Linked DNA regions of Homo sapiens: all the other regions are reported to be linked to region 1. The links are microRNA targets in miRTarBase. Many come from high-throughput screens and were not tested one by one. Region 1 holds a microRNA gene; each other region holds the end of a gene's coding sequence.

What was found. The annotated mature microRNA hsa-miR-1238-3p reads CUUCCUCGUCUGUCUGCCCC and lies in region 1 at 2,540-2,559, shown strand. An mRNA with a match to its seed (bases 2 to 7 or 8) in the 3' UTR can be bound and repressed. Matches are read on the target gene's strand: a 7mer-m8 pairs with bases 2 to 8, a 7mer-A1 pairs with bases 2 to 7 and ends in A, and an 8mer does both.
Region 2: miRTarBase lists SLFN12 as a target of hsa-miR-1238-3p. The part of its 3' UTR that is shown has no 7-base or 8-base seed match.
Region 3: the mRNA of C4orf36 is a reported target of hsa-miR-1238-3p. The part of its 3' UTR that is shown has no 7-base or 8-base seed match.
Region 4: miRTarBase lists MID1 as a target of hsa-miR-1238-3p. Seed matches in the 3' UTR shown: 7mer-A1 at 4,419-4,425, 7mer-A1 at 4,154-4,160 and 7mer-A1 at 1,708-1,714.
Region 5: miRTarBase lists PPP1R3E as a target of hsa-miR-1238-3p. Seed matches in the 3' UTR shown: 7mer-A1 at 2,885-2,891, 7mer-A1 at 3,880-3,886 and 7mer-A1 at 4,718-4,724.
Region 6: miRTarBase lists ENPP5 as a target of hsa-miR-1238-3p. Seed matches in the 3' UTR shown: 7mer-A1 at 3,171-3,177.

The regions. Positions count from the first base shown.
Region 1 is chr19:10,549,644-10,554,732 of GRCh38, forward strand. It overlaps MIR1238 (microRNA 1238), which reads left to right and starts at 2,479; the gene lies at 2,479-2,561. It overlaps ATG4D (autophagy related 4D cysteine peptidase), which reads left to right. Exons shown (of 10, transcript NM_032885.6): 7 at 2,254-2,332; 8 at 2,402-2,478; 9 at 2,562-2,681; 10 at 3,242-3,775. The coding sequence ends at 3,424. KRI1 (KRI1 homolog) reads right to left here. Exons shown (of 19, transcript NM_023008.5): 19 at 3,442-4,638. The coding sequence ends at 4,308. It also overlaps the pseudogene RNU7-140P. RefSeq lists enhancers at 4,437-4,606, 4,627-4,676, 4,707-4,786.
Region 2 is chr17:35,406,888-35,411,976 of GRCh38, reverse strand. SLFN12 (schlafen family member 12) reads left to right here. Exons shown (of 4, transcript NM_018042.5): 4 at 50-1,055. The coding sequence ends at 639. It also overlaps the pseudogene LOC729839. Among named protein-coding and RNA genes, the nearest start is that of SLFN12, 23 kb to the left of the region's middle. RefSeq lists a silencer at 3,713-3,926.
Region 3 is chr4:86,883,629-86,888,717 of GRCh38, reverse strand. C4orf36 (chromosome 4 open reading frame 36) reads left to right here. Exons shown (of 5, transcript NM_144645.4): 3 at 443-597; 4 at 825-960. The coding sequence ends at 958. Among named protein-coding and RNA genes, the nearest start is that of C4orf36, 6.2 kb to the left of the region's middle.
Region 4 is chrX:10,444,727-10,449,802 of GRCh38, forward strand. MID1 (midline 1) reads right to left here. Exons shown (of 10, transcript NM_000381.4): 10 at 830-4,990. The coding sequence ends at 4,642. Among named protein-coding and RNA genes, the nearest start is that of MID1, 170 kb to the right of the region's middle. RefSeq lists an enhancer at 4,213-5,076.
Region 5 is chr14:23,297,245-23,302,333 of GRCh38, reverse strand. It overlaps PPP1R3E (protein phosphatase 1 regulatory subunit 3E), which reads left to right. Exons shown (of 5, transcript NM_001276318.2): 1 at 1-174; 2 at 476-1,036; 3 at 1,470-1,576; 4 at 2,793-2,933; 5 at 3,417-5,089. The coding sequence ends at 898. Among named protein-coding and RNA genes, the nearest start is that of PPP1R3E, 3.1 kb to the left of the region's middle. RefSeq lists silencers at 1-198, 279-338, 349-778 and an enhancer at 839-1,028.
Region 6 is chr6:46,156,722-46,161,721 of GRCh38, forward strand. ENPP5 (ectonucleotide pyrophosphatase/phosphodiesterase family member 5) reads right to left here. Exons shown (of 5, transcript NM_001290072.2): 5 at 2,464-5,000. The coding sequence ends at 4,605. Among named protein-coding and RNA genes, the nearest start is that of ENPP5, 12 kb to the right of the region's middle.

The DNA of each region.
Region 1 (5,089 bases):
CCTGACCTCAGGTGATCCACCCACCTCAGCCTCCCAAAGTGCTGGGATTACAGGTGTGAGCCACCACGCCCGGCCCATCCCTTCTTTTTTTATACTATGCAGCACCTGCTATGTGTGCTCCCCACTGTCCCGACTGCTGGGGATTCAGAGGGGAACAGAATAGGCAGGAGTTCTGAGTGTGCCTGCTGGGAGCAGACGTTCTGATGGGAGGATGCTCAGCAGTGGCTATGTAACCAAAGTAGCATCACTGTTTGGAATGAAGCCAGGCACAGTGGCTCAGGCCTATAATCCCAGCACTTTGGGAGGCCGAGGCAGGAGGATCATTTGAGACCAGTCTGGGCAACATAGTGAGACCCCCATCTCTACACAATTTTTTTTGAAAATATTCGAGTCTCACTCTCTTGCCCACGCTGGAGTGCAGTGACACCGTCTTGGCTCACTGCAACCTCCGCTTCCCAGGTTCAAGCAAATTTCCTGCCTCAGCCACCCAAGTAGCTGGGATTACAGGTGTATGCCACCACGCCCGGCTAATTTTTGTATTTTTAGCAGAGATGGGGTTTTCCCATGTTGGCCAGGCTGGTCTTGAACTCCCGACCTCAGGTGATCCACCCACCTCGGTCTCCCAAAGCGTTGGGATTACAGGCATGAGCCACTGCACCCAGCCTCTACACAACTTTAAAAAAACAGTAACCCAATGAAGGGCAGATGAGGGTAGCAGCAGAGCCTAGAAAAGCGCCTCTGCAGCCACCAGGCAAATGAGGAGCCAGAGGAGAAGTGCTCCAGGCAAAAGGAACAGCAAGACAGAGACCCTGAGGCTGGAAAGTCCCCTATGTATTTGCATCCGAATAAAAGCCAGTTTTCCCAGTGACCCACAGAGCCCGGCACTATTTGTCCACACCACCTTCTTGATGTCGGGATATCCCCCACCTTGACCTCATATCCTCCTCCCACACTCTGCTGCAGCCACAGGGGCCTCCTCACCTATTTCAGACACTCCCACCTCAGGGCCTTTGCGCTTGCTGCCCCTGCTGCTTGGAGCACTCTTTCAGCAGTGATGCATGTGGCTTTTTTTTTTTTTTTTTTTTTGAGACGGAGTCTTGCTCTGTCACTCAGGCTGGAGTGCAGTGGCATGATCTCAGCTCACTGCAAGCTCCACCTCCTGGGTTCATGCCATTCTCCTGCCTCAGCCTCCCGAGTAGCTGGGACTACAGGCGTCCGCCACCACTCCTGGCTAATTTTTGTATTTTTAATGGAGATGGGGTTTCATTGTGTTAATCAGGATGGTCTCGATCTCCTGACCTCGTGATCCTCCCGCTTCGGCCTCCCAAAGTACTGAGATTATGGACATGAGCCACTGCTTGGCTCCTGTTTTAAAATATTTTTTGCGTGGGGGGTTTTCCAGTGAGAACCAGAAAACCTGAGACAAATTCTAAAAGAGCTGTAATGTTTGACCTCTTTACTTAAAATCACAAGGCTCCCTTCCCTCTTTTATTCTTTTCCATATAGTTATCACCTCTAACACATGAGATAAATCATGTAATTGGCTGGGCGTGGTGGCCCACGCCTGTAATCCCAGCACTTTGGGAGGCAGGTGGATCACCTGAGGTCAGGAGTCCAAGACCAGTCTGGCCAACATGGTGAAACCTCGTCTCTACTAAAAATACAAAAATTAGCTGGGCGTGGTGGCGGGCGCCTGTAATCCCAGCTGCTCGGGAGGCTGAGGCAGGAGAACTGCTTGAACCCAGGAGATGGAGGTTTCGGTGAGCCAAGATCGTGCTACTGCACTCCAGCCTGTAATCCCAGCACTTTAGGAGGCCGAGACGGGCAGATCACCTGAGGTTAGGAGGAGTTCCAGACCAGCCTGGCTAACATGGTGAAACCCCATTTTTACTAAAAATACAAAAAATTAACCCGGGTGTGGTGGCGGGTGCCTGTAATCCCAGCTACTTGAGAAGCTGAGGCAGGAGAATCGCTTGAACTTAGGAGGCGGAGGTTGCGGTGAGCCAATTGGGCCACTGCACTCCAGGCTGGGTGACAGAGTGAGACTCCGTCTCAAAAAAAAAAAAAAAAAAAAAATTCATGTAATCATCTTCCTTGTTAGTCTCTCACACTAGGATGTCAGCTCCTGAGGGCAAGGGTTTTGTGGTCTTGATCACTGCTGCCCTCCAGAGGCTGGGTTCTCACAGAGGAGGTGTTTGCCAAGCGTTTGTTGAGTGGCTGCCTGACAGCACCTGCCTACCCTCCTCCCTGCAGGAACTCCTGCGTTGCGAGCTGTGCCTGGGCATCATGGGTGGGAAACCGCGACACTCACTGTACTTCATTGGCTACCAAGGTAGGCCCACCCCCTCCTCACTCCTCCCACCCCCCACCGCACCCCCACTCACACCTGCACCCCCTGCAGATGACTTCCTGCTGTACCTGGACCCTCACTACTGCCAGCCCACTGTGGATGTCAGCCAGGCCGACTTCCCCCTGGAGGTGAGTGGGAGCCCCAGTGTGTGGTTGGGGCCATGGCGGGTGGGCAGCCCAGCCTCTGAGCCTTCCTCGTCTGTCTGCCCCAGTCCTTCCACTGCACCTCGCCCCGCAAGATGGCCTTTGCCAAGATGGACCCAAGCTGTACCGTGGGCTTCTATGCTGGAGACAGGAAGGAGTTTGAGACACTCTGCTCAGAGCTGACCAGGGTGAGCAAGAGGAAAGCTGGAGTGGGGTGAGGGGGGCGGTTGGGCAGGGCTGGGGGTGAAAGAGGAACAGAGGCCTCGAGTCCAGCAGAGCTGGGGTGCTGCTTCCAGGCTAGGGGTCCTAACCTGGGAAATGTGAAGAATGTCCACCCCTGAAAAGGTGGGAACGCCAAAGCCCACTGTTAAGGCATCATCCCTTGGAGGCAGCTGTATCCAGGGGCTCAAGTGGTGGGAACCCTCCCTGTCTCTTGGCCCTGCTGTCCGACCAGGACTCTACCCTTATGGGGGCGAGAGATGGCCACCAGCCATTCTGGGCACCCACCCTGTGGTCACTGGAAGGGAAACGCAGGTTTTGCAGCAAAAATCCCAGGACTGTCAGTCTTTGGCTGAGCTGGGTCACATGCTCATGGCTGAGCCAATCACTGTGGCCAGGGGATGGAAGGTGCTGATTGGCTGCTCTCTCCTGGAGAGGTGGTCCTGAGAAGCACCTACTAAATAAACCTGGGCTAAGGAATATGGCTTGGCACTGTTTGTGGCTGACCCTGTCTCCCTCTTCCCGCCAGGTCCTCAGCTCCTCCTCAGCCACAGAGCGGTACCCCATGTTCACCCTGGCCGAGGGCCATGCTCAGGACCACAGCCTGGACGACCTCTGCTCCCAGCTCGCCCAGCCCACACTCCGGCTCCCTCGCACAGGGCGGCTCCTCAGGGCCAAACGCCCCAGCTCTGAGGACTTTGTGTTTTTATAAAGGGAGGGGATGAGGGGAAAGATACAACACTATTTATTTTTTTATTTATGTCATGTCGGGTGTGGGATCTTGAGCTCTGGCAGTGATGATGGTACTTCCTGTTGTCAGCCCCTCAAGCCCAGCTGCAACCAGTCTGGGGCCATTCAGCCAGGGACAGAGCCCACAGAGCCCATACACCTGTCTCCCACCAGCGGGGCCCTCCTGGCAGGGTAGGGAAGGAGGACCCCGGGCACCCCCCTCAGGGCCTGACTCACGTACTGTAGTTTGCACTGGACGCCCGGGCCCTCCCTGTCCCAAAGCCCCCTTGGGGGAACTGTGGCTGCTGGGGGCCAATAAAGCTGTGTAACTTGATCGTGGGTGTGGCTGGGCGCAGCGTTCTGAGGGGATGTGGGGTCTGGGAGGTGTCTCGAGGTGAGAGCTCCAAGTCACGGGAAGTTTAAGTCAGCCTCAGTTTCCACATCCATAAAATGGGACGACTTCCTTACCCACAGCTACACGTGTTTTTTAATTTTTTTTTTTTTTTCAAGAGACAGGGTCTTGCTTTGTTGCCCAGGCTGGAGTGCAGTGGTGCAATCATAGCTCTCTGTAGCCTCAAACTCATGGCCTTAAGTGATCTTCCTTCCCCAGCCTCCTGAGTAGCTGGGACTACAGGCATGTGTCACCACATTTTGTAGAGATGGAGTCTCGCTAAGTTGCCCACGCTGGTCTCCAATTCCTGGGCTCAAGTGATCCTTTCACCTCGGCCTCCCAAAGTGCTGGGATTACAGGCGTGCCTGGCCACAGATGAGAGGATCTCTGCAGCAGATAGTACTTGTGGGTGCGAGACCTGTCCAGGGCTTGATTTGAGGAGAGGAGCCTGAGGCCCCTGCCTGCTCCCTGGTGCTCAGGAGCTGTTCTTGGGCCCCTGTTGTTTCCTCCGCTGCCGGCCCAGCTGGCGGAAGTGCAGCCGTTTGGGGTTGAGGCCAAAGGCCTGCAGTCTCTGGCGGCTGAACTCGCATCCACCAAGCATCACAGTGGGGCCCAGCAGCCGTGCCTTCTTGGCCCTCCTCCGCTTCTGGGGGGCTGGCTTCTTGTGGGGTGATACAGGGGCTTCCTCTTCCTGTGCTGGGGGACTCTCCGGCCCCATCAAGCTGCCATCAAGGGCTGGCAGCTGCCTCTGTGGGCCGGCTTCATCTCTCTGTGGCTTCCCTGTGGCTTCCGCAGGTGTCTCTGCCCTGAGGGAGAAAAGTCAGGGCTCAGCCCAGGCCTGTCAAGATCAGGCCCATTCTTGAGCACGCATGCCCCATTTTACAGACAGGGAAAGGAGGGGCATAGTGAAGCAGCCGCACAGCGACCGAGGGCCTGCCTGGGATTCAGACCTGGGTTTCAGGCCAAAGCCAGCGCTTTTCTACGGAACCCAAAGACTAGATTGTGAGGCTGAGGATTCTGGTATTTGTGCCTGGGCCTGCCCTAAGCTAGTCACATCAATTAACTCATTTTAGCCTTTTTCTTCCTTAGAGACAAGGTCTTGCTGTGTCGCCCAGGCTGGAGTGCAGTCGCGTTACCATAGGTCACTGCAGCCTCCAACTCCTGGGCTCAAGCGATCTTCTCGCTTGAGTCTCCCAAAGTGCTGGGATTATAGGTTGGAGCACACACCTGGCCTCATTTTAGCTCTAAATAAACTGT
Region 2 (5,089 bases), not on the chromosome of region 1:
GGGAACTTCCTAGTGTTTTATAATTTATTATTATTATTTCCTTATTCAGGGCTATCAGGAAGGATAACGTATACTCCAGAAAACCTTTGCAGAAAACTGTTCTTACAACATGAAGGACTTAAGCAATTAATATGTGAAGAAATGGACTCTGTCAGAAAGGGCTCACTGATCTTCTCTAGGAGCTGGTCTGTGGATCTGGGCTTGCAAGAGAACCACAAAGTCCTCTGTGATGCTCTTCTGATTTCCCAGGACAGTCCTCCAGTCCTATACACCTTCCACATGGTACAGGATGAGGAGTTTAAAGGCTATTCTACACAAACTGCCCTAACCTTAAAGCAGAAGCTGGCAAAAATTGGTGGTTACACTAAAAAAGTGTGTGTCATGACAAAGATCTTCTACTTGAGCCCTGAAGGCATGACAAGCTGCCAGTATGATTTAAGGTCGCAAGTAATTTACCCTGAATCCTACTATTTTACAAGAAGGAAATACTTGCTGAAAGCCCTTTTTAAAGCCTTAAAGAGACTCAAGTCTCTGAGAGACCAGTTTTCCTTTGCAGAAAATCTATACCAGATAATCGGTATAGATTGCTTTCAGAAGAATGATAAAAAGATGTTTAAATCTTGTCGAAGGCTCACCTGATGGAAAATGGACTGGGCTACTGAGATATTTTTCATTATATATTTGATAACATTCTCTAATTCTGTGAAAATATTTCTTTGAAAACTTTGCAAGTTAAGCAACTTAATGTGATGTTGGATAATTGGGTTTTGTCTATTTTCACTTCTCCCTAAATAATCTTCACAGATATTGTTTGAGGGATATTAGGAAAATTAATTTGTTAACTCGTCTGTGCACAGTATTATTTACTCTGTCTGTAGTTCCTGAATAAATTTTCTTCCATGCTTGAACTGGGAAAATTGCAACACTTTTATTCTTAATGACAACAGTGAAAATCTCCCAGCATATACCTAGAAAACAATTATAACTTACAAAAGATTATCCTTGATGAAACTCAGAATTTCCACAGTGGGAATGAATAAGAAGGCAAAACTCATTTTCTCAAAACAAAACTCCAGGAATTCTCTGGATCTTCTTGAGCTACTTTCACACTATTTACTTGGAAGGGTTGTGGATTTCCTAACTGGTCAGCTAGCACCTTTAAAGAACTCACAAGAATGGTTACTTTATTTTTCTACAAGCAGTTCTGAATAAAGAAGCGTGAGATGACAAAATATGGAAAATCCTCTCTAACTAAGATTTGAAGGAAAGCAGCCAAGGTATAAGTAGAAACTCTTTTAGACAACGAGAGTTTTCATCAACAAGAGGAAGGAGCACCAGGGTCTGGCATTTCCCACTCATCTAAGATGAGCTAAGGGACCAAGATGAAGCTCAGCAGAGTGGGATACACCCTTGGCTGGGTGTTCTGAATTCATGCCTAAGACCTTCAGTGGGATCTTGGAACAGAGAATAGAGCCTAAATTACCCATCAGGGCCTCAGCCTTCTCCACCACTGTGTCCAATGCCAGAGGAAGTCGATCAATGCATTCAGTATTCTGAGAAAAGTTTTACTAACACATATTTTGCCAAACGAGATGATGTTTGACTATAAAGGAAATAGGCAGACATTCTTATCAAAGGATATAGGGAACGGAACGTAGTTCTCTTCTACCTTCTTGAAAACTATGTTACAATGAAATCCAGCCAATGAAGAGATGAATCAAAATGAAGAACCTAAAACGAGAGCATACTTGCACTCCTGGAGTCTCTCTCCAGCCCTGAACTGTGGCCAGCACAGTGTGTCAGCCTGTACCAGCTGCCGGTATGGGTGACCTGGGCACAGGCAAGGCCATCATCATCACACACTGTGTGCACCAGAACTCCTCTTGGCATCTCCAAGCCAGTTCACCATTGTGTGAACTGTGCACTGAAGGAGCTCCACTGGGACTCAGAGGCCTTGGCACAACTGCAGCTGTGGAACATTGCGATGAGGAAAGATTGGGAAAATGACAAGAGCCCATTGTCTGGAATTCATAGGTGCATTGATTGTCTTCAGTATCACCAGCCCAGCCCCATTTGAAGCAGAGCCAAAGTGGAAAAATGATTTGGACTAAACGTTAACTCATGGCAGACCAGTTTCTGTGGTTCTGTTGGCCAAGAAATGTGACCATGGGAGGATGAATGCAGAAACAGCAGCCTCAAGATGGGCCAGATCTACATGGAACATAGTTTTGTAGGATAAATTGAAACATCAGCAAAAGAAAATGTGAACTTTGATGAAGCCTCCAGGTGCCTGGATGCCAAATAGACAAATACAGAATATAAGAAAACACAATAAGAGTCATTGGCCCCGTGCCTATTTGGCATCATTGCAAGAAACCTGGGGTAGTAATAGTGGACGTATTTAGAGAGTGAGGCATAAGCTCACCTAAACAGCCTAGAAAATGTTTACTATGAGAGTAAGAAGGAAGAACACAAGTGGATATACGAGGAGTCCTTGCAATCTGGCCCATCAGTAAGTTTTTCATGTGTGCATCATTAGTCAAGAAAGTAGATCTGAAATTTTGGGGGGTCTTTAGTATAATCTTGGTGGAGTTGTAAAGTGGATTAAAAGTCTGAATTATATATATATCAAAGTGGCAGGTCTGGCAGTCATATTGTTGAACAGTGTGGCTGATACATTAATAATGTATGTGTACATTCGTGTATGTGTGTATAACCAAGGGGAAGGGGTGGTCATGGTCAGAGATGTAAGACAAGAGGTCGGCGGGGGGAAGCTTCAGGGAGTGGTAGGGGAGGGCACTGGGGAGCGAGTGGGTCAAGGAGTTGACTAATAGGAAACAACTACCTCCAGGAGAAGGCAATAATCTCCATTACTTTTTATTATTTTATTTTTTTTTTTAGGGACAAGGTCTTGCTCTGTTGGCTGGGCTGGATTGCAGTGGTGTGATCATAGCTTACTGCATCACTGAACACATGGGCTCAAAAGATTCTCTCACCTAAGCCTCCTGAGTAGCTAGGACTACAGACACCACCAACTCACCTGGCTAATTTTTAAAATTTTTGTAGAGATAGGGTATCACTACGTTGCTCAGGCCGGTCTCAACTCCTGGGGTTAAGCAGTCCTCCCATCTTGGCCTCCCAAAGGGCTCGAATAGGCAAAATTGAGCTGTTTAATGAGAAGCAGTGGGGATAATTATCCCCTTTCATAATGAGGTTCTATATAACAAGTCTTAATCCTTGAAGGGCCTATTCTAACTTAAATTGTGCCATATTAACTATTTTAAAGAGGGATTTATAGGGTCCCATTTTATCAAGCCATTTTTTAAGTGCCAAAATTTTAACTTTAGTTTATTATTTGTTGTGTCAGAGAGTCTGTGTCCAATAAGAGATACTTTAAAGCAATGGGTACAAAACTATGGGAAATTCAACCAAAGCAGTAAAGTGAGGGATAGTTATCCAAAATATTTTTTAACTTTAGTTACCTTTTTAAGATTAGAGGGCATACAATATTTAAATTTAATGAGAACCCCAAGTATAATATGTATTTTTTTGAGAAGGAGTTTCGCTCTTGTTGCCCGGGCTGGAGTGCAATGATGCTATCTTGGCTCACGGCAACCTCCGCTTCCCGGGTTCAAGTGATTCTCCTGACTCAGCCTCCCGAGTAGCTGGGATTACAGGCACCTGCCACCATGCCTGGCTAATTTTTGTATTTTTAGTAGAGACAGGGTTTCACCATGTTGGCCAGGCTGGTTTTGAACTCCTGACCTCAGGTGATCCACTCGCCTCGGCTTCCCAAAGTGCTTGGATTACAGGTGTAAGCCACCACGGCCCACTCCAAGTATAATTGGAGCCCCAGTATTGATTGAGTCCATGAAGTATGTCAGCTGGTATATTTTAGCAAATGCTAAAGTTAATTTAGACCTTATGTTGTAGAGACAAAAAATCTAATCAATGTCCTTTTATCTTTTTGTAATATAAATTCTTTGGTATATACATTCTGGATTTCTAATTGGGCCAAATTATGGACATTTGTTTTAATTTAGTTACTTATGTTATATCCATATCTATATGTACACATACAATCTATTCCTTAAGTCTATATTGAAATATTATATCGAAGGCCTGACCAGAGTGTCCGCCATGGAGTCGCAGAAAGAGGCGCGACCCCGTCGCGCGACCGCCTGGGGCCTCAAGGTCTCAGACGCCAAACTACAAGGAGCAGCGGGAGGGCGGCGCAGTGCTGGCGACGGCTGCCCTGGGAACAGAGGCGGACGACGCTAGTGCGGGCGGGCTGTGGGAGCTGCAGGTGGAGCCGAGGAGCTGAGGCCTGCGTGCAGCCGCTGCAAGCCGGCCTCAGAAAGTGTGTTTTTGTCCATTTCTCCCAGCGCACCCTTTGCATATCTCTACCTACTTGTGCATAATTCAGCATCCAGCAGAGGAAGACAAAATGTTGCGGACAGTTCCTCTACCAGCAGCATGCCTCCCCCAGGACAAGCGCAAAGTGAAGACTGGTCGTCGCTTCAGTGAAGAAAGAGATCCTGAACTTTCAACTGTTTGCCGGAAGTTTGGTACATTAATGTTATATCCAGGGGCTAATATAAGAAGCTGCTAATCTGGAAGAATTTATATTAGATTCTCCTGTTTATCCTTCTACAATCATCGTCATTGATGGTACACGGAGCCAGGCTAAGGACATTTTCTGTAAGAATTCCTTGTTCTGACACCCCCAAACAGGTGCAGTTAAAAACGAGCATTTCTAGTCAGTATGTAATTCGGATACAGCCAATTAATAGATGTCTTTCTACACTGGAGTGTGCACCTGTTGCTCTTTCCATCTTGGAGAAAAATAATTACATACAAGAGACTTTGCTTCGCCCTCTTGAAGCTTTATGCTCTTTCCAGATTTAGCATGGTGCCCAAATTGGCCCCAGCAAGCAACGCCTTCTGAAAAAATGGATTATATCCTAAACCAATGCCAAAGAACAAACACAAACTCAGGAAAATGGAACTATTAAAGAATAGTGTTAAAATTTAGTACAGTTGTTCTTTTGGTGTTAGCTTACCTGTCTTCATCTAACAATACCAACTT
Region 3 (5,089 bases), not on the chromosome of region 1:
TTTGTAGTTTGGAATTTCATCCCCATTCCCAGATTGCACACTCAAAACCTTAGTCTGTGCCAAGCACCCTGCTCAATGTATGATTATGCCCTTCTTTCCTTCTTCAATATGACCACATTTTTATGAGCTATAAAAGACTCTGGAGCTTACAGTTCTTATCTACATCCTCTTACATGGAAAGAATGGATTGACTTCATGGAGGCTGAATCAAAGTTCCTGGTGTAATTTCTGGTCATTGTTCAGTATTATCTCTATATTAGTTAATATAAATCTCCCTCTCCTGTCTGGAACTACAACTCTGGAAAATTCTGAACATCTCCCCCTCCACCCATAAACCAAAATGTCTAGTGGCAAATGGAACTGAGAATTAATGTCTTCTACATCTCACATAGTAGGTGCTTAATCAATATTTATTGAATGGATTAATGAATTTTTGCCCCAGACAGGAACCTTGGGATATTGCATTGCTTGCAAAGACCTGGTCCACAAACCTAGCCAATATCAAGTTGCCTTTCTTGGAAGAAATTTCATTTGGTGGTTCTGTGCAGCTCACAAAATGTACCACCATTAAAGATGGACTGCTCCCTTCTGCAGAATGTAAGTTCCTTAAGTTCTGCTTTAATAAGTTATAAATTCAGTGTGCCATTTGCTTATCAGAGAAATGTTTAAATCTGTGTATTTACACCCATACCTCCTATCTTTGTAGCTCTGTCATCTTGTTTATTATTCAGGCATATGGATTTTGCTGTATGATATTCAGTTTTGACTTAGTTATGCCTGATGAAAAATGTATGTCAGATTGTTTTGTGTATTTTCTTTTTCAGCTATCAAACTCGAAAGGGAGTATGAAGTGAAGCGTCTTTGTAAACTGAAGTGTCAAGAAAATACATCTAAGGAAATTCAGCTTCTCCTGAGGGAAAGGCCAGCCGGTTTGAGAAGACCTCTTCCATCTAAATGACAGTCAGTTCATGATTGAATCTGTACTCTGTGTCTTGCATCCAAAGGGCATGAAGGTCTCTGGACCTTTCACTATGTATAGTTCAGGGCAGATATTTGAATGCCCACTGGTGGATGGGCCACTGCCCACAGCTGTGGGTTAGTACCCAGTTCTGACAGATCTTCTGAGTCCCTGACATACTCTTGTTCCTTGTGTCACAAACGACAGCACTGTAAGTAGATGAAAATGCATTTGGAGTTGAGTCGTTTGTGCTATTCATTTTAATTTTTGTAAAATTGCACTAAAAGAAGAGGAAATTTCTTCAGCTGCATTGTTTTCAAAAGACATCTTAAATATGCATCTTTGAGATCCCAAGGAGGGACCAAAAGAAGGCAAGAGAGAAATTCTCTTAAAAATGATAAACTGAAACATTTCATTTGGTTAAGAAAAATAATAGACTTCATTTTTAGTACCTCCCTAGTTTCCAATTTTCTTTTTTTTAAATATATATATTTTTTATTGTACTTTAAGTTCTAGGGTACATGTGCACAACGTGCAGGTTTGTTACATATGTATACATGGGCCATGTTGGTGTGCTGCATCCAGTAACTCATCATTTACATTAGGTATATCTCCTAATGCTATCCCTCCCCCATACCCCCACCCCACAACAGGCCCCCGTGTGTGATGTTCCCCTTCCTGTGTCCAAGTGTTCTCATTTTTCAATTCTCACCTATGAGTGAGAACATGCGGTGTTTGGTTTTTTGTCCTTGTGATAGTTTGCTGAGAATGATGGTTTCCAGCTTCACCCATGTCCCTACAAAGGACATGAACTCATTATTTTTTATGGCTGCATAGTATTCCATGGTGCATTTGTGCCACATTTTCTTAATCCAGTCTATCATTGTTGGACATTTGGGTTGGTTCCAAGTCTTTGCTATTGTGAGTAGTGCCACAATAAACATACGTGTGCATGTGTCTTTATAGCAGCATGATTTATATTCCTTTGGGTATATACCTAGTAATGGGATGGCTGGGTCAAATGGTATTTCTAGTTCTAGATCCCTGAGGAATTGCCACACTGTCTTCCACAATGGTTGAACTAGTTTACAGTCCCACCAACAGTGTAAAAGTGTTCCTATTTCTCCACATCCTCCCCAGCACCTGTTGTTTCCTGACTTTTTAATGATCCTCATTCTAACTGGTGTGAGATGATATCTCATTGTGGTTTTGATTTGCATTTCTCTGATGGCCAGTGATGATGCACATTTTTTCATGTGCCTGTTGGCTGCATAAATGTCTTCTTTTGAGAAGTGTCTGTTCATATCCTTTGCCCACTTTTTGATGGGGTTGTTTTTTTCTTGTAAATTTGTTTGAGTTCCTTGTAGATTCTGGATATTAGCCCTTTGTCAGATAAGTAGGTTGCAAAAATTTTCTCCCATTCTGTAGGTTGCCTGTTCACTCTGATGGTAGTTTCTTTTGCTGTGCAGAAGCTCTTTAGTTTAACCATTCCTTCTGAAACTATTCCAATCAATAGAAAAAGAGGGTATCCTCCCTAACTCATTTTATGAGGCCAGCATCATCCTGATACCAAAGCCTGGTAGAGACACAACCAAAAAAGAGAATTTTAGACCAATATCCCTGATGAACATCGATGCAAAAATCCTCAATAAAATACTGGCAAACTGAATCCAGCAGCACATCAAAAAGCTTATCCACCATGATCAAGTGGGCTTCATCCCTGGGATGCAAGGCTGGTTCAACATACGCAAATCAATAAACGTAATCCAGCATATAAACAGAACCAGAGACAAAAACCACATGATTATCTCCATAGATGCAGAAAAGGCCTTCGACAAAATTCAACAGCCCTTCACGCTAAAAACTGTCAATAAATTAGGTATTGATGGGACGTATCTCAAAATAATAAGAGCTATTTATGACAAACCCACAGCCAATATCATACTGAATGGGCAAAAACTGGAAGCATTCCCTTTGAAAACTGGCACAAGACAGGGATGCCCTCTCTCCCCACTCCTATTCAACATAGTGTTGGAAGTTCTGGCCAGGGCAATCAGGCAGGAGAAAGAAATAAAGCATATTCAGTTAGGAAAAGAGGAAGTCAAATTGTCCCTGTTTGCAGATGACATGATTGTATATCTAGAAAACCCCACCGTCTCAGCCCAAAATCTCCTTAAGCTGATAAGCAACTTCAGCAAAGTCTCAGGATACAAAATCAATGTGCAAAAATCACAAGCATTCTTATACACCAATAACAGACAAACAGAGAGCCAAATCGTGAATGAACTCCCATTCGCAATTGCTTCAAAGAGAATAAAATACATAGGAATCCACCTTACAAGGGATGTGAAGGACCTCTTCAAGGAGAACTACAAACCACTGCTCAACGAAATAAAAGAGGACACAAACAAATGGAAGAACATTCCATGCTCATGGATAGGAAGAATCAATATCGTGAAAATGGCCATACTGCCCAAGGTAATTTATAGATTCAATGCCATCCCCATCAAGCTACCAATGACTTTCTTCACAGAATTGGAAAAAACTACTTCAAAGTTCATATGGAACCAAAAAAGAGCCCGCATTGCCAAGTCAATCCTAAGCCAAAAGAACAAAGCTGGAGGCATCACGCTACCTGACTTCAAACTATACTACAAGGCTACAGTAACCAAAACAGCATGGTACTGGTACCAAAACAGAGATATAGACCAATGGAACAGAGCCCTCAGAAATAATACCACACATCTGCAACTATCTGATCTTTGACAAACCTGACAAAAACGAACAATGGGGAAAGGATTCCCTATTTAACAAATGGTGCTGGGAAAACTGGCTAGCCATATGTAGAAAGCTGAAACTGGATCCCTTCCTTACACCTTACACAAAAATTAATTCAAGATGGATTACAGACTTAAATGTTAGACCTAAAAACCATAAAAACCCTAGAAGAAAACCTAGGCAACACCATTCAGGACATAGGCATGGGCAAGGACTTCATGTCTAAAACACCAAAAGCGATGGCAACAAAAGCCAAAATTGACAAATGGGATCTAGTTTCCAATTTGCAATGAAACATCATTGAATATTCACATGTGGTGCTTTAAAGTAGCAAGTAGAACTCACTTTGTTTTTGTTCTCCTAAAAAAAATTGTCAGGCTGGGGGTGATGGCTTATGCCTATAAATCTCAGTGCTTTCGGAGGCTGAGGTGGGAGACTCGCTTGGGCCCAGGAGTTTGGGACCAGCCTGGGCAATATAGGGAGACCCGGTCTCCACAAAAAATTAAAAAATTAGCTGAACATGGTGCTGTGTGCCTGTAGTCCCAGCTACTCAGGAGGCTGAGATGGGAGGATCCCTTGAGCCTAGTAGTTTGACGCTGCATTGAGCTGTGATCATGCCACTGCACTCCAGCCAAGGCAGCAGAGTGAGAACGTGTCTCAAAAAAAAAAAAAAAAAAAAAAATTCAGTCTTTTTCCTTCTGCCTAATTTCTTATTTTCTATCTGGAATGACCCTGAAGCATATGGAACACACATACTTGTGTGAAAGTGACATGAAAATACACAGAAGGTCTTATGAGGAAAACACAGAGTGGATGGGGGATGGGGAATTGATCAACTGGAAAGTATTGGATTTGGATGAATAATTTTTCTAGCATTTGAATCCAATAAAGCACACTTGGATATTAATGTTACATTTGAGCACAGTTTAGTATTTTTTAGATGATTCAGTAGGCATTTTAGGATCTTCTGGTATTTTTTTTTTCCCACCCAGGCTGGAGTGGAAGTTTCACTGTAACCTCTGCCTCCTGGGTTCAAGCAATTCTCATGCTTCAGTAACACGAGTGGCTGGGACTACAGGCATGCACCACCACACCTAGCTAATTTTTGTATTTTTTAGTAGAGATGGGATTTCACCATGTTGGCCAGGGTGGTCTCGAACTTCTGACCTCAAGTGATCTGCCCATCTTGGCCTCCCAAAGTGCTGGGATTACAGGTGTGAGCCACCGCGCCTGGCTGATCTTCTAGTATCTTAGCTTCATTTCATTATGAAAGGCACTGTGGCATACTGTTTAAGAATATAGACTTTAGACCTGGGTGCCTTTCTTCAAATCATAGCTCAGCTGCTTATTGCT
Region 4 (5,076 bases), not on the chromosome of region 1:
GCTCTTGTGCTCTTGATTTTCTCATCCCTCATCTTTCAGGATGGGATCCAGGAATCCTCATTTGCAGAAAAGATGGTTTAAATGCTCAGTCATGTTAAGAATCACTGCATTACATCCTGCTCTCTCTAAAAGCACATTGCCTTGAAAACACATCTCAGGTGGTAAGTGCCTTTCTATATGGGCTATGAGACTGGAAGCAGCTCCCCAGGGCAGTGCTTCACACACTTCCACTAGTATCAAAATCCCCTGGGGTGACTGCTAGTCCCACCCCAAAGATTCTGATCAGCAGGTCTCGGGGGAGGCAGGAGAACTGACAGTTCTAACAAGCTCGCAGGTGATGCAGATGCTGCAGATTCCTGGACCACACTTTGCATAGCACTGACCAAGACCAAAGGCTTGCATCTCTAGTGAGAGAAAGTCAGGTCCATGGGATGGGGTTGAGGATATATGTATGGACCAACTGCTAGGATTCTCCTAGATCACACTGTAAAGACTCCCAGTGCTCTGTTCAAATAATCATTGCTCTTCTCTTCCTCACCCCATCTATAAGACTTGAAATCAAGCAAACCTTGTTCTGGGTTTCCACTTCTATATAGGCTTTCTTTTATTGTGTTTTAAAAATTCCCTGGAGAATATTTTGAGTGTTGCAAAAGAATTGTATTTTGAATAGGGAAAGGCAAATAGTGGATGAGAGACAGTAAAAGAAAATGAATTATATGTCATAAAGTAGTATGAATAAATGGTAGATGTTGAATAAATATTTGTCAACATCATAACTGCAAAAACACAAAATGATGAAAAGGCAACAGAGACAGGCAGAGACAGAGGGTCTTGGTGCCACAAAAATGATTTTATTTTGAACCAGAAAGGAACAGCAATCAAGACAATAGTCAGGGCCGAGGGCTTGGCAGTGTGACTTAAGTACCGGGGATTGAATTTGTCCAGGTGCAAGGAGTGACATAAAGAGAATCAATTTTTCATGTCCAAGCCAAGCTGATACAGATGATGATACTTATCAGTGATTCCCATTTACACAGGCTTGGATTGCTTTTCAGATATCAGATTTTTGGAACTATTTTATAAATATTTTTAAAGGTGATGGAGCCACTGGAGTGTAGGTGAATTGGTGCCCCTCCCCTTTTCTTTTTGGGTGTATCAAGCATATAATCAATGACAGGAAAAGTGAAAGGTTTTTATGAGAGTTTTGCATTAAAAGAAAACCAACGATCAAGTTTCTACACTGCAGCACTGTTGATATTTGAGCAAGACAACTCTTCGTGGTCGGGGGCTGCGCTTGCACTGTAGGATGTTTAACGGCGTCCATGACCTCTACGCACTAGATGCTGGTAGCTTCCCTTCCCCGGCTGCGACAACCAAAAGTTGCCATTGCATTGCCAAATGTCTCCTGGGGGGCAAAATCGAGCACTGGTTGAGAAGCGCTGTTTTCAAAAACATCCTCCTGCCCCCATCATTGTCTTGGTGTGCTTTTTACCATTTTATTAAGATAGACCAGATGGTCAACTTCCCAACACCAAATGCACATGTATGCCAGCATATATGCGTGTCTCTTTGCAGGTATCTGCATGTTCCTGGAGCTGAGATGGAATTCCACGGTCACTGGAGGACGTTAGTTCAGTTCCTCAGCAAGTTTAAGGTCAATATATCAGTACCGTAATAAAAAAGCCTGTCTGTATTCAAGCTGTTTCTTTTCCTCCAGCAGAAACCATCGTCAATATTTGCAGTCAGTTTTTGAAGTCACTTTCTTTTAAAGCTGGAAAGAATCTTCACCCAGGCCCACCCTCATCTTAATCCACTATTTAGAGTCCTACTTGAATGATATCGCCAGCAACTTTCAACTTTGGATCCAGATTTCTTTATTTGTATCCACCAGGAAGAGAGGTACCACGTTTCTGAGTTCTTTTATGAGCACTCGCTATGTAATTTGCAAGGCCCAGTGCGAAGTGAAAACGCAGGCCCCTTGTTCAAAAATTGTTAAGAATTTCAAGACATCAACAGCAGAGCATTAAATCAGGCTTAGGGCCCTTCTGAACTCCTGGGCTCTGGGCATACCCATGACACCAGACCTGGCAGTCTTGGTTGGTGCTGCATTGATTTTGTTGTATTAATTTAATTGGCACTGCCATCTCTTTTGCCCCTGTATCGCAGTGTTTCCTGTGGTGAGGACCCCAAATAATAAAATACTGTGACCTCAATCAGTTTAAAGAGAATGCAAAATTACACTGCAGCAAATTTTTACAGCATACATTTTTTAGACTTTCAAAAAAAAAATTCACACGGGAATCTTTTCTACATCATTATAGTAATTAAACACGGTGGCCTTTCACCATATACATATTTTCCTGTAAATATGACAACCTGGAACTAGTAACTGCTACTATCCACAATGCTTTTAAGTTAGCCAAGAGTGAGACTTCCACAACAAAATTATGACATAATCTCTCATGTCCTTATAAAAATAGCCAAACATACCCTAAATGGCTTACTGTGAAAATTTGAGTAGTAACTTCTTAATATTGAAAAACATTATTTTCATGGAAATATTGTCCTTCTACTAAGTGTTTTATGTTAACATCATAAGGCAAACTGTAGCATTTATTGGTACCTGGAGACCGTGATTTTAAAAACTCAGAAGCTGAGTTTTAGACCCTTTTATTTAGAACCTGTTAGTGTACAAAGTGCATTAAAATATCCATTATCCAGTTACCCAAAATGTATGTAAAAATTACTGAGACAACCCTTTCAGTTTACTCAGAGAAGGCAAACACACATTGCTTTTATATTGTAATAAAAAGAAAAACCTATAAGGTTTCCAGAGAAAGATTGTTTTTTTTCCATTGAGGCGTCCATCTTTTAGATGTGAAATTGTCTTAGGTATCTATCAAAATATTCATCTGGGTATAAATAATATAGTAAATATATAGAATCTATCTGTTAAGAAAAAGGAGAGTGTCTGCTAGGGAAGAGGATGGAAGGACCCAGGAAGCTGGCTTGGCCTCCCTTGAAATCCAGATTTGCAATCACATGACCTTTGGCCACGTGATGCTGAAACAATGAGTTCATTGACTTATTTCAGGGAGGCAGTTGGTTGATTTGGTTAAAAACAAAATAACTAAAAACAATGTCTAAATCCACTAGTCTGCTCAGTCAAAATGGCTGACCCAGTATCCCAGGTAAATATTTTAGCAATTGAAACCATTTATAGAGGTCATGCCCTTCATCAAACTAGAACCAATGCCAGAGTTCTGGGCCAAGAACTGCTCAAGAAAGCCTTAATTCATGGACCATTCCAACGCATCAGATTGGCATGCAAAGAATCCCAGCTGACATTTTATAAGCAGGTTCCTGAATAACGAGTTTGAATTTTTTTTTTTTTTTTTTGGTCTTACAACTCTATTGTAAACTATACTAGACTATAGAGGGACTTCTACATCTTTCAAGATGTGTTTAATAAAGGTCTGTTTATAATAACTTTTGAGGCATGAATCTAGCAAATAGTACTTTATACAATGTCCCTTGTCATTACCAACTCATAAATATTAAGTGTTTTTCAGTGACTTATGTTTGGATGTGGTAGTGCTGATCAGGGCCATGTGCTGATGTCCTGGAGAGCAAAATCAATCCAAAGTGGTGCTGCTATTTGTGACAGAACATGTTTATTTACTCAGCCCCGGAGACAAAAGGAAAATTGATATGGGGGAGCGGGAAATAGGAGAACTATTAAATGTAGTGAAGAAATTTCACAGGTCTAAAGGAACTATTAAAAGGAAGGATAAAGTAGATTCTATACTATAAAACAGAATCCTACCTCTGATAAAAGACAAATCAGCCTGAATTTTTGAATAATCAATAGGATTCAAAATGACTATTTTCAATTGCAATCTCATTCTTAATGTTCTTCCAGAACCCTTAACCCTGAGAGAAGCAGGGCAAAATGTGGCCAAAGGATTCAGAACCTTTCTTTCCAACATTATCCCATCAGCTATGAGAAGGTAAAGATTTAGCCACGGCAAGGTCCGAGGTCCAAAATCAACTCTTTTCATTCTCTGTCTTGCTCTCCATTTTAGTTGATCTGATACAACTTTTTGACATCACAATTAAAACACTTCAAATTAAACCAGAGTAAGAAAGCCTGTTTCCTCCCCTACTAGGTTCAAACACATCCTGTTATGCACCATCGAGGTGAGAAGACCTACCATGGGATCATCATGGGATATCAGGTAAGAAGATGAGTAACATACAAAACTACAAAAGTTTTTGTTTTTTTGTAAGCCCACAGATTGTGATGAAATGAAGGTTGTAAATAGCTGATAAACTTATGGGCCTCTTAATGTGCAAAACCAAGTAATTCCTAAAAGTTGTAATCCTGATTATGTTTCTCTTATAAATAATCTATAGATTTTCCTCTAAATACAAAAAAATTAAAGAAATTATTAAAGCCCGTACTTAATACAAGACACAGTAAAAGGAGAGGAATCTCTTGTTTTGAGCCCTATCTGAGCCGATTTCGGGACACTTCTGGTGAGATTTCATTACACTCATGAAGCCTGTGCTTTCTCAGTCCCCTAAATAGTGGCCTGAACCTTACTGTTCCCCAGAAAGCAGCTCCATGTGGCCAGACGCTCACGGCAGCTGCTCTGTGCAGTCCAAATGGTCTGGGATAGGGAGCCCAGTGATAATCGTCAGACACTTGTTCCACACGGTGAAGGTGGGGCAAACAGGCTGCGCAAATGCGACGTCGAAGGTGTAGAGGTGGATGGAGTTCAAAGCATCATAAAAGGCGATAGAGCCGTTATCATAGTCCAGCAGGATGCCCACGCGCCGGAGGTGGGGGGCAGGCTCAATGGGGATTTCCTTGCTATTGTGTCTCACCACCCAGTTATTGTTGCAGCGGCAGAGCGCCCAGGAAGCAGAGTTCTTCCCAATCCATTCATGCTTCGGGGCTGATTTGTAAGCAAGACCAATGGCATACCTGCGGAAACAAAACAGCAACAACAAAAACAATGAGCCATGTTGCACATGCACGTTAAATCCGTTCTGTGGTCCTCAGGGGTTATA
Region 5 (5,089 bases), not on the chromosome of region 1:
CCAGACACCCGCAAGAGAGTGCGTTTCGCCGACGCACTGGGGTTGGAGCTGGCTGTCGTGCGCCGCTTCCGTCCCGGTGAGCTGCCCCGGGTGCCCCGCCACGTGCAGATCCAATTGCAGAGGGACGCCCTCCGCCACTTCGCGCCCTGCCAGCCCCGCGCCCGCGGCCTCCAGGTAGGCGGCGGGGGCACCTCCCCTCCTGGGGACCTCCTCCAGTCGGCCGCAGCGGGCTTGTGGGAGTGGATTTGCCAAAGAGCACCCATCTCCATCCCATCCCTGGGCTTGCGCCTGCCCATCCCTTTTGGGGACCCCATCTGCGAGTGGCTCTAGGCCACCCTGGCAGCTGGGCCGCACTCTGCCGGCCTGGACGCCGGGGTCGGCCTCTGATTGGTCCAGTGCCTTGCTCTGACACCGCCCCCTGTCTCTCCCCTCTCTCCGCCCTGGGCTCCCTCCTCCCGCTTCTTCTTTCCCCCAGGAGGCGCGCGCCGCCCTGGAGCCGGCCAGCGAGCCCGGCTTCGCCGCCCGCTTGCTGACGCAGCGCATCTGCCTGGAACGCGCCGAGGCGGGCCCGCTGGGCGTGGCCGGGAGCGCGCGCGTGGTGGACCTGGCCTACGAGAAGCGCGTGAGCGTGCGCTGGAGCGCCGACGGCTGGCGGAGCCAACGCGAGGCGCCAGCCGCCTACGCCGGTCCGGCCCCGCCCCCGCCGCGCGCCGACCGCTTCGCCTTCCGCCTGCCCGCGCCGCCGATTGGGGGCGCCCTGCTCTTCGCCTTGCGCTACCGTGTGACAGGTCACGAGTTCTGGGACAACAACGGCGGCCGTGACTATGCTCTACGTGGGCCCGAGCACCCGGGCAGTGGCGGAGCTCCGGAGCCGCAGGGCTGGATCCACTTTATCTGAGACGAGGCGCCTGCGGCCGACGGCGGAAAACACCAAAGGCACCCGGGGGCGGGGCGACCCGATGTGGCGGGGAGGAGTAGGAGAGACCAGGATTGGCGGGAGCGGTCCAAGGGAGTCAAGCCGGGGAGGGCGAAAAGGGTGGGGAAATCAGGGGCGTGGGGGCGTGGGGGCGTGGGGGCGGGGGGAGTGAGCGGAACCAAAGAAGCTCCGGGAGATCCGGGTGTTAAAAGCTGGTTGGATGTGAGTGGAAGGAACTCAGAATATAGGAGGAAGGAGACCCGAAACGGCACCGGAGGGATTATAAAAAAAGGAAAAGAATGGGGATGATGGTGGCCTTCCCTTCAGTGAGTGGGCTCTGGGAGAAAGGGAGGAGGTCCATCAGGCCTAGGCGGTTGAAGAAGGTTAAGAACCTTTTGGAGATGGAGGAGGTATGATGTGAAGTAGCCCACCCAGTCGAAGGCATTTACATTGCTGGCGCATTCCCTCTTCTTACCGGCCTTTTCCACCTCAGATCCCCCTGTCCTACCCATCCTAGCTTTAACTCAGCCATAATTGCCTTGCTTAATCCCAGGAACCTGGCCACTGCTCCTTGGTCCTTGGCATTATGACGGGATTCCCTTGTCACCTCTGACAGTTCCTGGCTGCGGTGTCCGCGGACTGGCTGGGGAGTGATGACAGGTAGCTATCAGAGCTCCAGCCTCCAGGCAGCTTTAGGGATTAAAACGGAGGCCAAAGCAACTCCAGACCTGTTTTTATAGCCAAATACTGAGCCTCAGGGGTTGTACACTCAGGGGCTTCCAGGAAAATGCCAGCCTTACTTTTCTGGGGTGCCTTTTAATAACCTCCAAGCACTTTGTGGACTGTTTGTCGAGGGACGGTGAATCAGAAGAATCACTATTCTGATTTCCTTTGTCTCCGAAGAGGAAGTCCCTGACTAGCTATATAACTTTGGGCGAGTTACCTCTCACTTCTTTGTGCCCCAGTGTTCTCCTTGGGAAACTGGATTTAGGTTAGATGACCTTTTAAGGCTCCTTGTATGATATTTTGTGATCTGTACATGGCAGAGTATAGATTAGGAGCCAAATTTTCCAACCTAGTGCTATGGTTCAGAATACATAGCACCCCAAGCGTCTGGCTGGAGCCGAGGATGGGTCCTCCAGTTTTTGGCACAGATGTTCCGGAGCCCAGGAAGCATCCCATAACCAACCTTCAGCCCCACCGCCACCCCCAGCGTATTCCAGAGCCGCTTCCAAACCACAGCCTATCCTCTGCTCCATTTCACTCTTGTCCTCACAGACTTTCAGCCTCCATGCTCTGAGACAACTGTGGGTAGGTACATCTCTGTTGGTGGAAATGATGCTTAAGAACCCCAAAGATTAAAGGAAACAATGTTAAGGGCTTTTGTGAGGATAAAAGATAATGGGTATATGGAATAGAAACATTTCAAATGAAGAATCAAAGCATTTCAATCAATCCACTTGGTTGTAAAAAAAAAAAAAAAAAAAAAACAAAAACAAAAAAACACCAAAGCAACTTGAATAGTAAATGGCACCAGAAGATGGCAGTCTGCTCCATAACCAGAGCAAGTGCAGTGGGAAAGCTGGACTCTCATACCCACTCACATTCATGCCTTATATAAGCCTCTCCTCCTGGTTAACCTTAACAGGGGAGTGATTCCTCTGCTGGTTGCTGTTTTTCCTTTTCTCTTACCCTATTCCTAACCTCTTTGCTTCTCTCTTTCTTTCCTTGTGTCTCTTCCTTCTCTTTTCTTTTTTCTTTTAACATATAGGGTATTTTTTTCTTTTAACATATAGGGTATTTACCTTCATTTTGTTTATTTCCATTTGTTTCCTTCTTCATTCATGTTCATCTCTGCTATTCCTTCTCCCTCCAGAAGGGATGGAAACCCTATTTTCTTTTCTCCAAGACCATGGTTGGTCTGCTTCCCTCACTCGGGCTCCTTGACAGTCTTCTAGAAGAGAGAAGGAGGAAAAGAAGCAGTTCCTGATGTTACAAATGAACAAGGATCTCCCAGGTAACCAGCTCCCCACACCCATTTCTGTTACTAATTTCTCAAACAGAAATTTCTGGTTCCCCTTCTTCCTTATCACTGAGTGAAAGGGGACAGGCATGCACATGTGCCCATACATGCATTCAGAATAGAGTGTGGGGGCAGGGGCGGTAGTTCATTCCTGTAATCCCAGCACTTTGGGAGGCTGAGTTAGGTGGATCATTTGAGGTCAGGAGTTCAAGACTAGCCTGGCCAACATACTGAAACCCTGTCTCTACTAAAAATACAAAAATTAGCCGGGCATGGTGATTCATGCCTGTAGTCCCAGCTACTCATGAGGCTGAGGCAGGAGAATCACTTTAACGGGGAGACAGAGGTTGCAGTGAGCTGAGATTGCACCACTGCACTCCAGCCTGGGTGACAGAGTGAGACTCCGTCTCAAAAAATAAAAAAAAAGAATAGAGTATGAGGCTTGTTGGCTTGTTACCATGCCCATCCTGTCCACAGCCTTAGTCTTTGAGAAAAGATGGCTGAAAGAGAGGAACTCTCCAAGTCATTCCGCAAACAAATGCCCATTTAAACATCATCCTTGTCTTGTGAAGAAAACAGGAAGAATGTCATGTACCATGTGGATCACCTTCAGTTCAAAGTTGCAGCAAAGTGAAGAAAGAAACTACTGGAAGCCACCCAGCAATGCACTGTTTAGTCATCAATTAGGAGCCCATGGGAGGATAATAGGGAGACTGGGTGGAGGCTCAGTGTGTAATAATCTCTTGTCTAATGTATGTGTGTCACTGCCATGTTGTATGAACAATAGTGAGGGCTCACATTTACTTAACACTTGTGTGCGCAAATCTGGGTTTTTCTTCCTTTCCAGAACTATGACTCGATCATAAAATCTGTTTTGTTTGCATGCATGCCCAAAACAACCCTGTAAGTAGAACATTGTCATTATCTCTGTTTTAGAGATGAGGAAACAGGCTCAGAGAAGCTCAGAAATTTGTTCAAGATCGCACAGCTAGTAAATGGCAGAAGTAGGATTGTGAACCCAGGGAATCTCCAGAGCCTCTGTGTAACCATGATGTTATATTTTTTTTCCTCTTTAAAAACAAAATTTAAAACCTTGCTATAATCTCTTATTAGGAAATGATCATAGTTTCTGACTGTGCTCTGCCTTCCCATCCTGCCAATCTCCTGGACTGGCTTGGAGAAGACAGGGGGCCCCCGAGCTTCATCTGTGACTCGAAGGAGTTTGCTGCTGTCTCCTGTGTCAGTGTCCCATCTATGCAGGATCAGCACAGGACCCCCCTCACCTTCCCACTTACACTCTAGCCTTTCCATACATTGGAATTCTCTCCTGGCCCTAGCCAGCGCTCCACACCTGTTGGTGTGCCACCTCCCTCCCTCTTCCCCCACTGGCCTTGAACAGGCAAACCCCCTAATGTCGCCACTAGGTTGGGTCCGTGACTAGGACACCTGCTAGAGGGTCTGTGCTTGGGCCTTTTCTAGGAATCCCGATGTTACTGGGTAAGTGCCAACTCTGTGGGCAGAATGCTAATGATAATCCTGTTCCCTGACCTCTTTCTCAGAAGTACCCTGGCTCACTCTCCCCAATCTCAGCTTTATAGAACAACATTTTGGTCTTGATTATTCCCATATCAAGCTGCCCCAGGGCTTCGGTAAGCTGTTAGTTGCCCCACTGCCTCAAGGCTGGGTCTGGCTGAGCTACTTCTTAGGCACACAAATAGTGGGTGTCTCCTTGGAACCTGACACAAAACTATCAGTGCTACCAAGCCTTGTAAAATAGGGAGGAAACTAATATTTCTTGAGTGGCTTCTGAGTGCCTGGTGCTTTCGCGGCTCTCTGGAGAGATTCCTTGCCCTGATGGCTTTGGTGTGTACTCCTCTCCCAGGACTTCAGCACTGAGATTTTCCCAACCCCCTGGCTTTTCCTCACCTTGGGTTGAGTTGATCCGGCACTACCACAAACCCCACCATCTGCAAACCAACCAAGATTAGGCAGTATGCCCTTTCCGTCTTGCACTGCTCTTCCAAAACTTCCATCTGTATTTCTCACACCCTCAGTAAGCAAAGCTGAGTGTGCATGGACAGAGCTGCATCCACTGCTTTCTCCCAGCGGGTGCAGTCTAATCTGACACGGGGAACACTAGGAGTTTAGCG
Region 6 (5,000 bases), not on the chromosome of region 1:
CATGATTTCAGGTAAGAATCTGCTGTCATCAGACTTGGTGTTCTATAAGTAATGCATTGCTTCTCTTTGGCTACTTTCAAGATTTTTCTTTTAAGTTGTTGAGTGGGGGGCCCTTTTTAACAAGTTTACCTACAATGTACCTAGGTGTGGATTTATTTGGGTTTATTCTGTTTGGGCATTCACTCAGCTTCTTGGATCTGTAGATTTGTGTCTAGTCAAGTTGGAGAAGTTTTTAGTCATTATTTTGTCAAGTAGTCTTTCAGCCTCCCCTTTTACAACCCTGGTGATATGGAAGTTGGATTTTTTTCTTATTGTCCCACAGATCACTGAGACTTGTTAATGTTTTGTGAATTCTAGTGTTCTGTACTTAAGTTCACTGATTCTATCCTGTACCAATTCCATTGTACTATTGAGCCTATGTAGTTTTTTTAAATGCCACTATATTTTCAGTTTTATAATTTCCATTTAAAAAATAGCTTTTATTTCTTTGCTGAGATTTTTTACCTTTCATTTTAAAGAGGATTTGTGTTGATCATTGAAGTATTTTTATGACAACTGTTTTACAATTCTTCTTGTATGATCCCAACATATGAATCACTTTGGTGCTGGTGTCAATTTTTTTTTTCTCATTGTAGTTGTGATTTTCTGGGTTTTAGGTATAACAGGTAATTTTCAGTTGTATCCTGGATATCTTATATATTATGTAATAAGATGATGAGTTCCCTTTACATTTTTTATTTTAGCAGAAAGTCACACAGTTTAGGTTTAGCATGTAGATCTTGTCCTACTTTTGTGGGCTGTGATTCCAATGGCAGCTTAATTTTCACAGCCTTTGGAGTGCTATTGGATTATGGTCTGCTTGGATTGTGTGGTGCTGCTGGAATTCCCACTTGTCTCTGCTGGTCCTGCCTGAGGAAAGCAGAAGGGTTTTCCCCAGGCCAGCTGCCAGGTATCTCTTGGTAGGGAAATGGTGTAGTGGGATTCCTTTATTGGTGCGCCTTGCACATTGCAAAGTCTCTGGGTAGAGGAGGAGAGTCTCAGGGCATGGGAACAAAGAGGTTCCCCAGACTGTCTGCTGTAGCTTGGTCTCTTTTGCAGATTTTGTTTGTCCACCTCTATGACTCAGTGGAAGAGTGTTTCAGTGGTGGGAAGGAGAATGCTCCTCTTGGCTGCTCTTTAATGGGACTCCCAATCAATATTCCTAGTTGGAGGGTTATGGCAATTCCCCTTGCTGATGACATGGGCTGCCCTGATGTTACCAGAGATTCTTCTTTGATCCAGGGGAGGAATAAACCTCCCTGGGCTGCTGTCTTGGTAGGTGGGGGTTAAGAAATGCAGGCTCTGTGTGGCCTCCTTCTGTTAGGTGAGAAACACGTGAAGCCCTGCCGCTGTGCTGTTTTTCCAGCCCAGGTTCCCTAATCAGCTCTCAGCCTTATTACCACCCTTCAGAGTCTCTTGCACCATTTCCAGGCTCTATAATTATGCTTAGTGTGGAGGAACAAGGAAAAGCAGGACCATGCTATCCTGTCCTGATTGGAAGTCAAAATGCATTTTAAAACGTCTTTTTAAAAAGAATCAAATTGCCCACAAGGTTATGAGGAATTACCAGGGTGACATTCAGAGAAGACTGAAATCCTGAAAGAGTCTAGCATTCAGGACTATTTTGTCCTGGGGCATTGCCCTTGGGCATTGGCCAGTCTGAAAGAAAGCCATAAGCCTTGTGTAGCTGACTGTTAAAAGTTGGACCAGAGAGCCTGCCAAGGGTGGGAACATCGGTTAACCACCTCCTGCTAGGGGTAGGATCTCAAAGGGCTACCTTAGGAAGAACCGGAAGTAAACCAACTTAGACTGCAGCTTGACTTTGAGTATAAACTCAGTCATGGAACCTGGGTCCTGCCTCCAGCTCTGGCACTAATATGTCATGCAAATTTCACAGCTTTGCAAGAGCTTTTGTTAAATCAAGGGTTGAATGATCCCTTAGAGCTTTCCCAACTCTATGATTATCAAGTATGTTTTTCAGCTAACGAAAAACAGAAAAAAAAAATGTGAGAACTAGAAGAGCTGGGGTCTTTCATTAGATTTTCTAGAAATAAGAGGTTCTTGTAAGAAACTAAGACTAATAATAGGATACTTACAAGATCACAGGGCATTTTGAAAAGCAATTTAAACTTAAACTGCAGGTGATGGAGAAGAAATTGTAAAATACAAACTGAATTTTAAAAAATCCTAACAATTAATAAACTTTACAAAATGGCTCATGTAGGAGGATGTTGAGAAAAGATGGGGGCACAGAGAGAAGCTCCATTCCTCTGACCTTTCTAAAATTCTTACAATTAGTAAGATTAGCTAGTCTTTTATTTCCATGTACTAATTTGAGTTCACTGCATACAAAGCTTGACCATGAAGACATGCAGGTAAGACAAAACAACAACAAAAAGATGTCAATGATGATAAGTGATGTGATTTTCCCAGAAAAGTTAAAAGTTTTATTTTTCTTCAGGTAAACTCTCCTATTTTACAGGAAAATAAGTATCTGTAAGTAAACCATCTGATAATCAAATATTTATATATGAATTTACTTTCTTACTACTAATGTAATAGCACCTTCTAAAATGAATTTAATGCAATTATTAATTTAAATGGACAGATAGCATAATAGTAATGCTCTAAAATGGACCAATTTCACCTTCCAGTCATTATGCTGACATTTCAATAATACAGGGTAAGTTCATAGCTACAAAGCAAGCCAACATGAGTGCTCATGTATTCTGAGATGTCTAATCCAGAGTTCATACTTCTGGGGAGTTTGCTACCTACCATATACTTTCTCAGCTTTTTAATCTATAGGCCATTTCCAATTATTTGATTCTATTCTATTAAGAGGTTTTATAATGAAATGGGAATTATGTGCCAACATTCCTTATTGGTATTATCATTTTAAAAAATAAGACATTCACCAAATTTTAGGAAGCACTTAAATTTGGTTAAATTTTTAACTATGTCACTTTAGTTCTTCACATCCCATTTGTCCTTTCTTTCTGGAATAGTAATACAATTTTACCTACTCATTAGCCAATTGGTACATATATATACATGAAATCACAGTACTATCCATGTGTCTGTAAAATGCTATTTTCTTCAAGGAAAGTCTTTCTTTTCAGGGCTTCCTCTTTCCTCTAAGAAGCCACATGTAATACTATGCCTCTCCCAAACTTCTTGATTACTTAGAAATCTAAAGCACAGCCTTAGGTTGTTGGAATGGAAAAGACTGAGATGACCAGGCAGGTCAAAAGTACTACCTTGGAAGTAGAAGTCTATTTGTGAACTTGGATTCATCTTTGATTCCACTGAGCACCTGGTAGGTGGGTATTCACATATTTCTTGAAACAGAGCTATATCATCTCGGCTCCCGTGTTTTGATACCTGTTACCACAAAGAGTTATTTTGCTGCTTTTTCTAGTATGCACACTTTACCACTGTTCTGGGTGTCTTGTAAACATCTCACATGTGGTCCTAATTTTTTTTTCCAGGCTCCACACAGTTCTTTTCAAGGATCGAGTGGCCAATATTTTACCTAATATGGTTTGTGCTCTTTCGCAACTTTGAATCTTCAAATGCTCAAATCTAAAAGATGCTTGTGCTCTGTTATTATGCGCTACCAGAAAGAAAACATTGTTTTATCCAATTTGATTTTTAATGTAATTAATAGTGATTTAATTTTCAAAGGAGCAAATAATTACAAACAAGAGAAAACATTGCTGAGATGGTGCCTGGTTGCTTCTATTCAGGCCATTGCTGAACTATATAGAAAAAAAGTATATTCATGGTGTCTTCATTATTATGAAAATCACAGTAATATGACTCATCAGGAAATCACAATAATTTTATGACAGAAACAATATATTTAGAACGAATCTGTCAGTATTTGACTCTCTTTTGAGGGAAAAATAAATGAAAACCACGTTCTCTGGAAAGAAATAAGACAAGAAATGCCCACAGTTGCATTCTGCTGTTGGGAATACATCTCCAAAATTCAAGGTTCAAAGGTTATCACATTTAATTTTCAACACTTATCACCTTCTTCTTCTCTCAATTTATGGAGATAGATTTCTACGTTCATTATTCGGGATTATTAGAAATTTCCTTCAGTTTGAACAATGCGTAACAAGTATTCTGTGACATGGGTGCAAAAAGTTGTCATTTTCAATCAAGTTATAAGACATAACTGTGCATAAAGTGCATTTCAAATTAAAGTACCCATCAGGAGAGAAATTTAAAGTGCAATACATAAGGTACTTTACATAGTGCAAAGTTGCTAAATATATACATTATCTGCGCCAAGTCCAAATAAAGCAGGATCTTATCTATCCCTATGCTACAGTGAACAATGGAGACATACTCTCACATCTTTATTCCTTTGCAGGTGTAAGTATTTTGGTCCGTGTGTGTGTATGTGTGTGTGTGTGTGTGTGTATACCTAAATATGTAACTGCTTAATGGTTTCTGCAAATGTTTGGAACTGGTTTCCCAGAATTTGAAACCTTTAAACACTGACATAATTATGGAATCTCCACTTCAATATGCAAATCCACTTCAAAGTAACATTAGGCTTGTAATAATGGTTGAGCTATTTCAGCATGCATATCTTGTAAGGCAGGTATTTGACTGTGAATTAAATGCTTAATGAAAATTACAAAAAATACAATCACTATAATGCTGCCAAGAGAGACCCCTATGAAATAAGGGTATGACCCCTCTTGGTCATATTCTGCTGGTTTAACACTACCAGGGAGGAGTATAGTACTCTGTGTATAAGGGACCACCCTTGGCATTGCTGAATTGAGCAGATCCTGGACATTCCAGAATGATCCATTGTGTGGCATGGCGGTGATATTGAGGAGGTGGCATAGTAGTGGGTACAAATCTGTGGAGTTCATGGCTTCTTTTGAGAAATTCTTTCTGAAGGCAGGACCATGGGCTAAAAATATTGGATGCATATC